2 linked regions of the Homo sapiens genome follow. The protein of the gene in region 1 binds, or shares a complex with, the protein of each later gene. Each region holds a gene or a part of one and is shown on either strand. Other genes may lie near its edges. A codon is read from its position in the direction of its gene.

Region 1 (9,434 bases):
AGCAACCTCCACCTCCCAGGTTCAAGCGATTCTCCTGCCTCAGCCTCCCGAGTAGCTGGGATTACAAGCTCCTGCCACCACAGCAAGCTAATTTTTGTATTTTTAGTAGAGACAGGGTTTTGCCATGTTGGCCAGGCTGGTCTCAAACTCCTGACCTCAGGTGATCCGCCTGCCTTGGCCTCCCAAAGTGCTAGGATTACAGCCACTGCGCCCGGCCAAGACTTACTTTTTACCAGATACTTTTTACCTTTTGAATTTTGTTCCATGCATATATTTTTCCTATTTAAAAACTAAAAATTTTTAAAATTTATATTCAGTACCTAATCTTGGTCTTTTGGCTGGTATTTCATCAGTGTCCACTGTAGAAAACAGAGTGCTGAAAAAGAGAAAGAAAAAAATATATATATATAGATTTACACACACATTCATTTCTGTAAGTAAACTTACTATTCATATAACACATCCCCCTTCTATCACTTTGTCATAAAATGAGATCCAACTGATGTTTTAAAAGAGAATGCTGGTGGGACACAGTGGCTCGTGCCTGTAATCCCAGCACTTTGGGAGGCCAAGGGGGAGGATCGCTTGAGCCTTGGAGTTTGACATCAGCCTGGGCAACAAAGTAAGACCTCATCTCTACGATAAAAAAATAAATAAAAAATTAGCCAGCCTTGGTGGTAAGTGAGTGTGGTCCCAGCTACACTAAGGCAGGAGGATCACTTGAGCCCAGGAAGTAAGGCTGCAGTGAGCCCAGGTCATGCCACTGCACTCCAGCCTAATCAAAAGAGTGAGACCTTGTTTTAAAAAGAAATAAAACTAAAAATAAAAGCAAAACAAAAGAGAGAATGCTATTCTATAGTAGGCTTTTCACATGCGAAGACTTACTGCTACAGTTTCAACTATTTGAGAGAGAAACAAACTTCTTACCAAATAATAATTTGCCATCTGGTTAAAGTACAAACTTAAAACTGGCCAAAGTCACTTAGCTAGTAAATGAACCCAGGTAAGAGTTTAGGACAGTATTTTCTCTTTCGCTCCAGAAATGATTTAAAAACAACAAACAAGCAATTTCCTTTTGAAAATGATCCCCAAAGAAAGCCATCTTTTACTTTAGGTGACAGTATTAATATGAACAGCCTTAAAAGACAATTCTTTTTTACTGTTTTTTCTTTTGTGTGTGTGTAAGGGAGTTAAAAAAAACTGTTCTACAACTTAAAAAAGACAAATCTTAATCAAGTGTTATATTTAACTTCATTTTTATCACGCAAACTACATTATGATGGTAATAAAGAACTTTGGAATTGAGGAAAGTTTCAGGACCCAGATGTCAAGAATGCTAAAGGGTCATAGTATATTACTCATCATCTCTCTGAACCCTTATGATCAATTATATTCACACATGCAAAAAAAAAAAATGAATAGAATGAGATCCCAGGATTCCATTCAGCTCATAACTTTATACATTCCAACAAGCCCTGCCGGGCTTCATTTTGACTGAAAATTGGTTTACACTGAGAAGTGTTGTTTTGGATTAAGGATGTGAACACCTAAAGTATAGTAAAGATCAAGGTTTTGATCGCCAAACCATGTTCCACTGACTAGCAGGGATTCACATCAAGGAGAGGACAAGGGAGAGGAAATTAGCTTTCCCTTATTCCATAAATAGGGACCAAGTGCTTATCATGCACCAGACTCTGCAAAAGGCCCCAGAGTAGGACAGACAAATACTACCCTTATATACATTAAGCATCAGTTTAGGCACTTTACACCACGTTCTCAAATGATCCTTATATCAACCCAACGGAAAGATAGGAGAGAAAAATAAGGCAAAACCATGTATCTCTGGAACACACGATGCAATTTAGCCAACAACCAATCTCATCAATAACCTGCATTCTCAGACTAATGTATTAGACATCTTGTTCTCTCAAGCTCCCACAAATGAACACTTCTTCCACTTTTCTTGATATTGAGGCTTAATTTAAAAAATGAAATTAACGGCCGGGCCCGGTGGCTCACGTCTGTAGTCCCAGCATTTTGGGAGGCCGAGGCGGGTGGATCACGAGGTCAGGAGATCCAGACCATCCTGGCTAACACGGTGAAACCCCGTCTCTACTAAAAAATACAAAAAATTAGTCGGGCGAGGGCCGGGCGCGGTGGCTCACGCCTGTAATCCCAGCACTCTGGGAGACCGAGACGGGCGGATCCTGAGGTCAGGAGATCGAGACCACGGTGAAACCCCGTCTCTACTAAAAATACAAAAAATTAGCTGGGCGTGGTGGCGGGCGCCTGTAGTCCCAGCTACTCGGGAGGCTGAGGCAGGAGAAAGGCGTGAACCTGGAAGGCGGAGGTTGCAGTGAGCCGAGATCGCGCCATTGCACTCCAGCCTGGGCGACAGAGCGAGACTCCGCCTCAAAAAAAAAAAAAAAAAAAAAAAAATTAGCCGGTAGTGGCCGGGCGCTGTGGCTCAGGCCTGTAATCCCAGCACTTTGGGAGGCTGAGGCGGGTGGATCACGAGGTCAGGAGTTCAAGACTAGCCTGGCCAAGATGGTGAAACCCCGTCTCTACTAAAAAAAATACAAAAAATATAAGCCGGGTGCAGTGGCAGGCGCCTGTAATCCCAGCTATTCCGGAGGCTGAGGCAGAAGAATCGCCTGAACCCAGTGGGCAGAGGTTGCAGTGAGCTGAGATCGTGCCACCGCACTTCAGCCTGGGCAACAAAATGAGACTCTGTCTCAAAAAAAAAAAAAAAAAAAATAGCCGGGCATGGTGGCGGGCGCCTGTAGTCCCAGCTACTGGGGAGGCTGAGGCAGGAGAATGGCGTGACTCCCGGAGGCAGAGCTTGCAGTGAGCCGAGATTGCGCCACTGCACTCCAGCCTGGGGGACAGAGCGAGACTCCTTCTCAAAAAAAAAAAAAATTAACACTTGATCACTAAAGTTGAAGAGGGGGCATAGAATTTGTATAGTATTTTATTTTCCAGATTTTTAGGTAAGGAGGTCGATACAATAAAATGGGACACTCCAAAGAGTAGATGCTAAATAAGAATAGCTTTTGGGGCTGAGTGCAGTGGCTCATGCCTGCAGTCCCAGCACTTCCAAAGGCTGGGGTGGGCGGATCACTTGAGGTCAGGAGTTCAAGGCCAGCCTAGCCAATATAGTGAAACCCCATCTCTACTAAAAACACAAAAATTAGCCAGGCGTGGTGGTGCACACCTGCAATCCCAGCTACTTGGGAGGCTGAGGCAGGGGAATCGCTTGAACCCAGGAGGCGGAGGTTGCGGTAAGCCGAGATCGCACCACTGCACTCCAGCCTGGGCGACAGAGCAAGACTCCGTCTCAACCAAAAGAAAAAGAAAAAAAGAAAAGAATAGCTTTGCGTTTCCCCCAAATTTTAACCGAATTTAAGAGTACAGACTAGTGATTGTTTTAAAGGAGTGAGGCACCTAAGCCTTTTTACTCATTCACTAATTCTAAAGCACAAAACCCTTCTGGCCCCAAACACACAGACTGTTTGACAGCTGTTTTGGAACAAAACAGGTGCTGTTTCTTGCTGCAAGGACAGTACTTGCAGTCAAAACGGCTTTGGGCAAGCTATGAATCTCACTTCAACTGCACTTAATGTCTGCAGATGACACTTGCGAGGGTGCTTTGTAAACAGTGAGCCACAACAAAGACAGTATTCCTTCAATGTTAGTGTTCAGCCTAAGAGCGGCAAAGCCCCATTTGTTATCAGCAACCAGCTTGGCCTCTGACAAGAATGTCAAAGACCCTGCCATCACCGGCCGCTACGAAGACGACCAGCTCCTCCTTCATCAGGAGCTGCCTCCCTACAGCCTGGCGGGAGCGACTACGTCACTAGGATCCCGGCGACCTGTTTCGGGTGAGCCTGGCTGAATCAAAGCTATCACGGCCGAGGAGCCCGCTGTGGGGGAGGGGGTAAGGCCAGGCTGGCGCTCAGCCCCCTCTCGTCTCACCTGTCTGAGCGCCGCCTCTTCAGGAGGGCCCGGGCAGGGGGCACCGACCGGTCGCAGAAACGGAAAATGGTGCCGAGAATCCTAACCAGCCATCTGTACATACCAGGCCCAAGCAGCAGCGGCGGCCGACACACCCCGAGACGCAAACCCCAGAGCTGTCGCCGCCGCTGCCGCCTTCGCCGTCTTAACCACCACCGCCAGAGTTCGGTCGCTGATTTGTGACGCGATTCAAGAGCCCACAGATACAGCGTCCCCAGGGCTACCAGAGGCCCCCGCCCGCCACCACTCCTGACGTCACCTCCTCCCGCCCGACCGGAAAGCTCCATTCTCAATCTGCGCACGCGCAACCTAGCACCGCTCCCTATTTCCGAGCCCAGCAACAAGAGTAATTGTGGGACGGTCCCGGCCCAATCGCTGACGAGATCGGAAGGGCTGTCGGCAGGGTTTTCTCTTCGGCGGAGCCAATCCGGAGCCGGCCCGTGGGACAAGGCCCACAGGCCACATGTGAGGCTGCTCCACTCCGGAGGAGGCGTTCCGGGGTCCCAGAGGACATTAGGTGCTCAGTGTTTGCTGAATGCACATGTAAAGGTAGATCAGGTTAATTAACACACGTTTACCGTTTTAGGCGCCCTTTATTTTGCACTTACCTTTTGCCTCGTACTTTTCACGCATTGTCACCTTAATATGCCCAGCAATGGCGTGTGACAGAGAGTCTTAAGCCAGTTTTATAAGTCAAGGAAATTGAGGCATAGAGCGATTAAGTTATTTGTCTAAGATCACAAAACTAGCTAGAGACGTGGCTGGAACTTGAACCCGGGGTCTGAGTACCAGCGCCAGTCCCTCGCCCTTGAGGTCAGTCTACTTGGAGACATGTACATAGATAATTACAAATTACAATACACCGTAAGTGGTTGCTGTGATAAAGGTATGTGCAGAGTGCAGTGGGAGCCAGAGAAAGGAAAACCACACACTGAGGGAGAGAAGGAAAGGGCAGATGTCCTCAAGAAAGGCTTCACAGAAATTTAAGGATGAAACCTGCGGCCCACTAATGTCTCCTACCCTGGGCTAGTAAGTAATGAGTCTCGTTACTCTCCCTCTATAATTCCAATGTCACACTTCTAGTTAATTGTCAACTATAGGCCGGGCGCGGTGGCTCCTGCCTTTAATCCCAGCACTTTGGGAGGCTGAGGTGGGCAGATAGCTTGAGCCCAGGAGTTTGAGACCAGTCTGTGCAACATAGTAAAACCCCATCTTTACAAAAAATACAAAAATTAGCCGGGTGTGGTGGCACGCACCTGTAGTCCCAACTACTTGGTAGGCTGAGGTGAGACGATCACTTGAGCCCAGGAGGTTGAGACTGCAGTGAGTCGTGATCACGCCACTGCACTCCAGCCAGGGTGACAGAGTGGGACCCTGACGCACCCCATCAAAAAATTATCAACTGTAAAACAAATCCCACCCTATTTAGTGATAGAAAATCCAGTCCCCTCTTCCAAACAATCCTAAGAATCCTCAAAGGTTTTCATGCCCCACAAATCCATTCCTGATTAACTTGTTTCCTACTTGTGATTCAGTTAAGGCCAGAGTTTTACACTTGCTTGAACTTCAACGCTGGCACTCCCCAGTACAGCCTCTTCCTTTCCTCAATAGACAGCATTCCAGGCCGGGTGTGGTGGCACACGCCTGTAATCCCAGCATTTTGGGATGCCAAGGCAGGCGGATCACTTGAGGACAGGAGTTCAAGACCAGCCTGGCCAACATGGTGAGACAACCCCATCTCTACTAAAAAAAAAAATACAAAAATTAGCCAGGCATGGTAGTACACTCCTGTAATCCCAGCTACTTGGAAGGCTGAGGCAGGAGAATCGCTTGAACCTGGGAGGTGGAGGTTGCAGTAAGCGGAGATTGCACCACTGCACTCCAGCCTAGGCAACAGAGCAAGACTCTGTCTCAAAAAATAAATAAATAAAATAAATACATGTGTGTGTGTATGTGTGTGTGTGTGTGTGTATGTGTGTATATATATATATATATATATATATATATATATATATATATATATGTAGCATTCCAGAATTGTGCTGCAAGCCACCCCCTAGAGCTTCAGAATCACCAGCCACACACCTGAAGCTACCACCACTCTGGCCTCGGGGGCTGGGGTCATATCCTAGAGGATGGAAGCAAATCCTAAGTGTGGACACACCCGCCTCCCTTATTCCCCTAAGCATAGCAAACACCAACCAGGCTGTTGCTGAAAGTTTGGGGCATTACAAAGCTGAGAAGACTTAGAAGTGGCTATTAGATTATGTAGCATCTATAGTCCCTGGCCTATTGTCTCGCAAAGGAATTCCCTTCACCTCAAGGCCATCCCTTTACTCGTAACACCTTTGGCAAGCTGCCAACAGAAGGGACTTTTCCCTCTACCTCTACCCCGACTATTTCAGGCTGGACTCCCCGTAAATGTAATCAAGAGTCAGGACTCCTATTAACAAAAGACAGTCATTGGCATTATTGTGCAAAGCAGTTCAGTTACGTCTGTCCCTTCCACTCACTATTGAGAGTTGGGCTTTGCCTTTGCCAAACCAAGAAGCCCGCTCAAGTACTGGGAGAGGATTCTCCCAAATAAAAGAGCAGTCTTCATTTAAACACGAATCATACATCCTAAGAGAACAATTTTTTTTTCCAAGTTAAAAAACACACACACACATAAATCAGAAAACTACAAGCTCTGCCAGGCACGGTGGTTCATGCCTGTAATCCCAGCACTTTGGGAGGCCGCGGCAGGCGGATCACGAGGTCAAGAGATCGAGACCATCCTGGCCAACATGGTGAAACCCCATCTCTACTAAAAATTAACTGGGCGTGGTGGCGCGTGCCCGTAATCCCAGCTACTTGGGAGGCTGAGGCAGGAGAATCACTTGAACCCGGGAGGCGGAGGTTGCAGTAAGCCGAGATCACGCCACTGCACTCCAGCCTGGCGACAGAGCGAGACTCTGTCTCAAAAACAAAACAAAACAAAACAAAAAACCTACAAGCTGCTTTTGAATAGCAACTTATCCCAGGTCTGGCCACTGAGATTTAAGAAATACTGTGGTAAGCTAGGTGTGGTGACTCACACCTGTAATCCCAGCACTTCGGGAGGTCCAGGCAGAATGATCACTTGAGCCAGGGAGTTTGAGACCAGCCTGGGCAACACAGGGAGACCTGTCTCTAAAAAAAATTTTTTTTTAATTGGCCAAGAGTGGTGGCATGTGCCTGTAGTCCCAGCTACTTGGGAGGCTGAGGTGGGAGTCAAGGCTGCAGTGAGTTGTGATTTCACCACTGCACTCCAGCCTAAGTGACAGAGTGAGATTTATAGTCTCAAAAAAAAAAAAAAAAAGAAAAAGAAAGAAATATATTGGGGTCACACTTGATAGCCCTGCGGTGCAACACAACAACACATTTTTTTTTTTCTTTTCCTGCCTCATAAATAGCACCCTTACAAACTCAATACTGAAACATTGGCCATCTGCCAGGAAGAGTGAGAAGGCTTCAGAATTACAGATCTCAGTCAGAATCTCAGGACCCCATCAGCAAACAATAACTCATGAATCGAATGTGGCAATCCTCAGCCTCCCACCGTGCATGCTCCCTCCATATCCCCCTAGTTACCCTCTAGAAGGAAGAAAAGGAGACGCATCCTTATACTCGCTCCCACCTGGGACTTGTCTGCCAGTTGGTGCCTTCGCTGTCCTGTGGTCCACAGTAGAGACATGGGTGACTGTCCATCCACTGGCCAAGGAGTGGGATTATCCTTAACCCCAACCCCACCACTGCCACAGCCTTTCCGGGACCTAGCAGCGCTTTACTGGAGGGCCATGGGAGAATCCCAAGGCCATATGGAGTAACAAGGACATTGAGATTTCTGCCCTTGGCTTGGATAATTTGCAGCCTTGTACTGCAAGAGGGGCACAACCTCATCGCTTAAGCTTTCGCAGGTGTTCCAATCAGATGCCCCAGTTCTCCAAGAAGATCCTTATCCCCTTTCAGCTCAGAGCAGCTCCTTGAAGCCTTTTCAGGGCCCCACCCCCTTCTTCCTCCAAACCTACCTCCCCTCCAATCCATTCTTTAGTCTTGCAAATTTCCCCTTTTAAAGCATTCAGAGAACTTTAACAAACTTCTTCTCAACTTTGTTTTTCCTGACCCCTGGACAGAAAAGAATTCTAGGCCATTTGTTGGAAAGGGTAAGGGCCCCTAGAGGAGGTTGTGTCGGGTTAGGCCTAATGTGCCTAAAATCCAACATAATTCACCACTCTGTAGATTAATTTCTTTCTAGGTACCAACTCTTCTGGTACTTTTTTTTTTTTTTTTTTTTTTTTTGGAGACGGAGTCTCATTCTGTCACCCAGGCTGGAGTGCAGTGGCACGATCTTGGCTCACTGCAACCTCCGCCTCCCGGGTTCACACGATTCCCCTGCCTCAGCCTCCTGAATAGCTGGGATTACAGGTTTTTCTTAAGTACCAGACGAGGGCTGGGCGCGGTAGCTCACGCCTGTAATCCCAGCACTCTGGGAGGCCGAGGCGGGTGGATCACGAGGTCAGGCGTTCGAGACCAGTCTGGCCAACATAGTGAAACCCTGTCTCTACTAAAAATACACAAAAATTTAGCCAGGCATTGTGGTGGGTGCCTGTAATCCCGCCTACTCAGAAGGCTGAGGCATGAGAATTGCTTGTACCCAGGAGGCCGATGTTGTAGTGAGCCGAGATCGCACCACGATGCTCCAGACTGGGCGACAGAGGGAGACTGTCGCAAAAAAAAAAAAAGAAAAAAGAAAAAGAAAAAGAAAAGATGATGGATGCGGTGGCTCACGCCTGTAATCCCAGCACTTTGGGACGCCGAGGCGGGCTAATCACGAGGTCAGGAGTTTGAGACCAGCCTGGCCAATATGGTGAAACTCCGTCTCTACTAAAAAAATACAAAAATTAGCCAGGCGTGGTGATGCACGCCTATAGTCCCAGATACTCTGGAGGCTGAGACAGGAGAATCGCTTGAATCCAGGAGGCGGAGGTTGCAGTGAGCTGAGATCGTGCCACTGCACTCTAGCCTGGGCATCAGAGCAAGACTCCCTCTCAAAAAAAAAAAAAAAAGAAAAGAAAAGAAAAGAAAAAGAAAAGTGTTTATGTAGATGAAGGGCCTATTCAGTGCCCAGCACAGCTAACTGTTGCTTAACATTTCTCTTGCCTCTCCTTCCTTCTCATATCTAATAAATCTTAACTTGCCTGGTCTGTATCCTACATTTTTCACAGATCTGTTCATTCCTCTTTCCAAACCTATCAGAACTACAGTCCTTCCTTTTTGTTTTTGAGACAGAATCTCCCTCTGTCACCCAGGCTGGAGTGCAGTGGCGCGATCTTGGCCCACTGCAATCTCTGCCTCCTGGGTTCAAGCAATTCTCTTGCCTCAACCTCCCGAGTAGCTGG
Region 2 (4,826 bases), on another chromosome or scaffold:
TGGTGAGTTTTTAATACTGAGCTGGATCATAAATCTGCATATCAGAATGCTGATACTTGGATTAAAATATTTGGTTTTTGAATTAAGCCGTATCTGGAAATGTTTAATGGCCACTGCTTTTCCTCTCCAGGGCTTGTCAGTGAGACTAATGGCCACTGCTTTTCCTTTCCAGGGCTTGCCAGTGAGACTAATGGCCACTGCTTTTCCTTTCCAGGGCTTGTCAATGAGGCAGATCAGATTCAGGTTCGACGGGCAGCCAATCAATGAAACTGACACTCCAGCACAGGTACGGAGCTGGCTTCGCGTGGTTCCAGGGCGACTTCCGATTTGTGCGGGGTAACTGCCATTTGGGATACGCTTATTTGAGAATTGTAGGTGGGAGCTCATACAGAATGCCTTAATGATATTGATTATTAGATTATTTATTTTTCACATTTTAAATTTAAATTTTCAAATGAGAAAACTGCTTTGCAGACATCATTCTTGCTGTTTGGAGATGGAGCCAAGTGCTGGGCCCGTCCTCACTGTAAGGGAAGCGGGGGTGCAAGGACCACTCAGCGGCCCCTTCCCACTCATTGTCTGGACGCTTGCTGTTGTAGCCCGTGTGCAGCTTAGGGGCCAGCTGGATTCTTGTGCCCTTTAAGCATCTTGCACAAGTGACGTGGGTGGGCAGAATGTGCCATAACCCCTGATTATCAGTCTGCACAGCTCGTTTCTCTCAGGCACATGCAGACATGAATGAGATTTCATCTATCACGTTGCAGGGCATCATACTGTCATGGAAAGAGCTTTGGACCTGGAAACAGACTTTTTTTTTTGAGACGGAGTCTCGCTTTGTTGCCCAGGCTAGAATGCAGTGGCGCAGTCTCAGCTCACTGTGCAAGCTCTGCCTCCTGAGTTCACGCCATTCTCCTGCCTCAGCCTCCCAAGTAGCTGGGACTATAGGTGCCCACCACCACTCCCGGCTAATTTTTTTGTATTTTTAGTAGAGACGGGGTTTCACCATGTTAGCCAGGATGGTCTCGATCTCCTGACCTTGTGATCTGCCCACCTCAGCCCCCCAAAGTGCTGGGATTAAAGGCATGAGCCAACGCGCCCGGCCGAAACAGAGTTTTTTTTTAAACTTGGTTCAAGTTGCAGCTCTTGTCATTTGTCAGCTGATGGCCCCGTGACCAAGCATCACTTCATCTTGTGGAGTCTCAGTTTTGTCTGTCCATAAATGGAACCAATACCTGCTTTTTCTCCCTTTCAATGTTGTGAGAATCCACTGGAATGTTTTATGTGGAAATATTTTTGCAAAACATTTAAGATTTTAAATATTTACTATTCAGTATTTAATAAATATTGAAAACATCTTTGCAACAAGTATCCATTTGTACCTACTTGAGGAAACCTACACACCGCTGAGGCAGTGGCAGCTCTGGGAGTGTTCACCAGGGAGAAGCTGCTGAGAGCAGCTGAGCAGGGAGGGCCTCGTGGAGTCTCTGGGGCTTGACTGGGGGTCAGGGGGCTGGCTGTGGACAGGTGGACCGAGAGGCAGAGGGAGCCCTGCCTGGGGGCTCTCCCTCCAGCCCATAGTGTCGGTGGCAGGGTGAGGGTGGCCGACAGCCCTGATGGGACTCCTTTCCATCTGGGAGCATGACTACTTCCAGCCTTGCTGAGTCTGTGTAGGAACTGGCAGAAGCTTCCTCTTGCTTAGAGGATGGAAGAAGATCAGGGTGGGTGTTTTGCGCCCACTGTGTCAGGAGGAGAGAAGTGAGCGGGGGTGTTTCACTACCTTGCCTGGGCTTTAAATGGGGAGGGGCGGGGAGAAGCTGGCAATGGACCCTCACTTGACGGGCCCTTCTGTGAGCTGGGGGCTTTGGCTTTCATGGCATGGTCCCCCGCACTTGGTATAAAGCGCAAGGCTCCTGTGGGTCCTAGGACTCAGTGCTGCTAATCAGATGTTCTTAATTAGAATCTGATTTTGTGTAATTTTCAGTAAGAATTTTAGACATTTCAGTTTATCTTCTAGACTCAGTTTTTCTCTCAGTTAACATTTTAGCTTTGAATCTGCTTTTGTGAGTTTTGTTAGGGGAAGCTTGTTGAACCGTAAGGGCTGTAGTGAGCATACAGCAATGCCTCTTCCATGCGTGCTGAGCTGCAGTGAGGGGACGGACAAGAGCCAAGGTGTGACCAGGTGATGTCGCTAGTGTCAGGGAACACTCATGCCAGTGAGGATCTTCCCACTCTCTGATGAAAACTAACAGGCTCCCCTCTCTCTCGCTGTGCCTGTTGTGACAACCATGACAGCTGGAGATGGAGGACGAGGACACCATCGACGTGTTCCAGCAGCAGACGGGAGGTGTGCCGGAGAGCAGCCTGGCAGGGCACAGTTTCTAGAGGGCCCGTCCCCAGCCCGGGCCGTCCATCCTCGCATTGCTGTTGAATGGTGAGCACGTGACCATGCCGACCACAAAGGTGTCTGCGGAAACTCGAGGACATTCACCACGATGATTTTCCTCTCTTTGATGTACTTCAAGTGCAACTCAAAACTATATCTGCAGGGATGAATCTGTAACTTAAATTGGGCCAATCAGAATTGTTATCTTTGTTCAGGTAAAATGAGTTGCAAGATATTGTGGGTACTTTTGTGTGCTCATTTGTGTTTTCCCCCCCTCCTACAACATTTTTTTAACCCCAAAATTATAGCCTGAATGTTCGCTTTTAGTCTGGCCAGGGATCTGACTCCTGAGTTGGTTGCCTCTCCCCTGCTCACTCCAGTCACATAGAGAATTGGTGTTTCCCGCAGTGGGGATGCAGCTGTTGGACAGGTATTGGGGGCAAGGTTGGTAGGGAGGACAGACTGTCACTTGCTGTTACAGGCACAGGTGATTAAAATGCTAAATATTGCAAATTTAAGCTTTGTCAGTATATGGAAAAGTTGAAGGGAAAATACTGGAATGCTTCTTCAAAGGTTAAAAAATAACCGAGTCTTTTGGTAATTTGACCCCACGTGCTCTCTGGCCCTCAAGCATGTAACCTCGGGGTCTGAGGCCCAGGACCCACCCCCCTGCCACCCCTCCCACCCCACTCCCTGCTCAGTACCTGGCGTTGGTACACAGGCAAGGATTGGCACAACCAAAATTGGCCTTTTTCTCCCTCTTAATATTGAAGAAATTCCCACATTTCTCATTTGGTAATGGTGTTGTGGCCTCAGATTTCTTCTAGTATTTGCTTCTGATGAATGATTATGGTCTATACATAAAAAAGTAAGACTAAGTATTGCTGAATTTGCAGTTATGTTGTCGTGTATAAGAGCTACTTCCAAGTGTGGTTACAAATGAACCCATGGAATGATGACTTCATGTTCTTCTCGTGGGTTTGTGCCGTGCTGCTTTCCAAATAGGTATTGAATTTATGCATTAGTCTGGTGATTTCAGTTCTGTGAAATATTTTGGGATCTATACCAATTAAACATTTTCATAGTTCTGCCTATTGTCCTTCCCTGAGGCTCCATTGCTGCTTGGTGGCCATTCTCTGCCTTTTTACAGTCACCTGAACAATGACCCATCATCTCTTGCTTGCTTGAAATCTTGCTGAAATGTTCTCATTTCCTGTTTGCTGTATGGGCTCGGGTGGGATGTTTGTTGGCTCTGTTGTGTTTATTCACCAATTTGTACATTATTTGTTGTCCTTTACTACTGTAAACAGTAAATATAGTTTGGTATTCTGTCTCTTGGCTTCTACTAAACACTGCATTTGAAGGTTGGGGCATACTGGTACAATTCAGTGTTTGAATTGACCATTCCAGGCAGCCACTGCACTGAGAAACTTTGATTGAAAAGCTAGCCGCTGGAAGGTTAGTATTCGCCTGGCAGCTCATTTCCCCTCCCCTGGCACATCACCAATGCTAGTCCAGCCTTCTTCCTGCTGAGGGATGCATCCTCTCCTCAGAGACCTCCTGGCTGACAGCTGTCTGAGCTGGCATCACTGTGACATGTTACCCTCCCTCTCCTGGGTTTCGTATGTAAAGAAAGGGTGGATTTTAGAGGCAGGTGAGCTTGGGTGTTAGTCTAGGACATCTCTCGTTTTCTGGTGTTTGAATGTAAGTCAGCTTTCCTTCTGCCATGGACAACTTACCTATCTGCTTTGAAACTGAACTGACATTGATTTGGCTTTAAGAATTTCCCAGTGTGCAGTGGTGTAACAAAACCCAGGTTGAAAATGAGCTGTTTTAGCCCATCAGTTGAATGAACCCAAGGTGAAGAAAGATGGGCAGCTGTGGAGATGGAACACGTGATTCACTTGCACCAGGAAGAGTGCACGGATTAAGGCACAATACAGGATGGGGACATCTGCCAGATTCCCTAGGCAGCCTGGGGCGAAGCGGCTGCCAAAATCAATGAGGAAAGGGATGTGTCCCAGGCACCGTAGGTTAGATAAGAATAATGGCCAGGAGCATATGTGGATGTATTAGGGCAGCGCTGCTTGAACTTCCACCCACAACACCTCACAGCAGAACCAGCAGGATGTCCTGTCTTTCTAAAAAAGATTTGTAGAGATGGAGCTCTCACTATATTGCTGTATTAGTGCATCCTCACATTACTATAAAGAACTACCTGAGACTGGGTAATTTATAAAGAAAAGAGGTTTAATTGACTCATAGTTCTGTAGGCTGTACAGGAAGCATGGCTAGGGAGGCCTCAGGAAACTTATAATCATGGCAGAAGAGGAAGGGCATGGACACAAATCCAAACCATAAATCAGTTGCCCAAGCTGATCTCAGACTCCTGGCCTCAAGTGATCCTCGTGCCTCAGCCTGCCAAGTAGTTGGGATTACAGGC

What was found. The genes of interacting proteins can lie anywhere in the genome.
Region 2: the proteins of SENP2 (region 1) and SUMO3 are in contact, whole or in part, in a crystal structure (PDB 2IO1), measured with the Homo sapiens proteins. Residues at the interface, in NP_067640.2 of Homo sapiens: Gln385, Asp386, Phe393, Lys394, Leu395, Arg396, Trp410, Leu411, Asn412, Asp413, Glu414, Ser439, Thr440, Phe441, Pro444, Lys445, Arg456, Trp457, Lys459, His474, Lys476, Val477, His478, Trp479, Met497, Gln499, Gln542, Asn544, Gly545, Ser546; in NP_008867.2 of Homo sapiens: Arg55, Arg58, Arg60, Phe61, Asp62, Gly63, Pro65, Asn67, Asp70, Leu75 (codon at 2,293), Asp81 (codon at 2,311), Asp84 (codon at 2,320), Phe86 (codon at 2,326), Gln87 (codon at 2,329), Gln88 (codon at 2,332), Gln89 (codon at 2,335), Thr90 (codon at 2,338), Gly91 (codon at 2,341), Gly92 (codon at 2,344), Val93 (codon at 2,347), Pro94 (codon at 2,350), Glu95 (codon at 2,353).

What each region holds. Positions count from the first base shown.
Region 1 is NC_000003.12:185,581,056-185,590,489, reverse strand, and holds the start of SENP2 (sentrin-specific protease 2), read right to left. Parts: upstream 4,196-9,434; 5' UTR 4,077-4,195; coding exon 3,976-4,076; intron 377-3,975; coding exon 321-376; intron 1-320. UniProt on the Homo sapiens protein: Protease that catalyzes two essential functions in the SUMO pathway.
Region 2 is NC_000021.9:44,804,507-44,809,332, reverse strand, and holds the end of SUMO3 (small ubiquitin-related modifier 3 isoform 1 precursor), read left to right. Parts: intron 1-214; coding exon 215-286; intron 287-2,292; coding exon 2,293-2,382; 3' UTR 2,383-3,716; downstream 3,717-4,826. UniProt on the Homo sapiens protein: Ubiquitin-like protein which can be covalently attached to target lysines either as a monomer or as a lysine-linked polymer. Does not seem to be involved in protein degradation and may function as an antagonist of ubiquitin in the degradation process.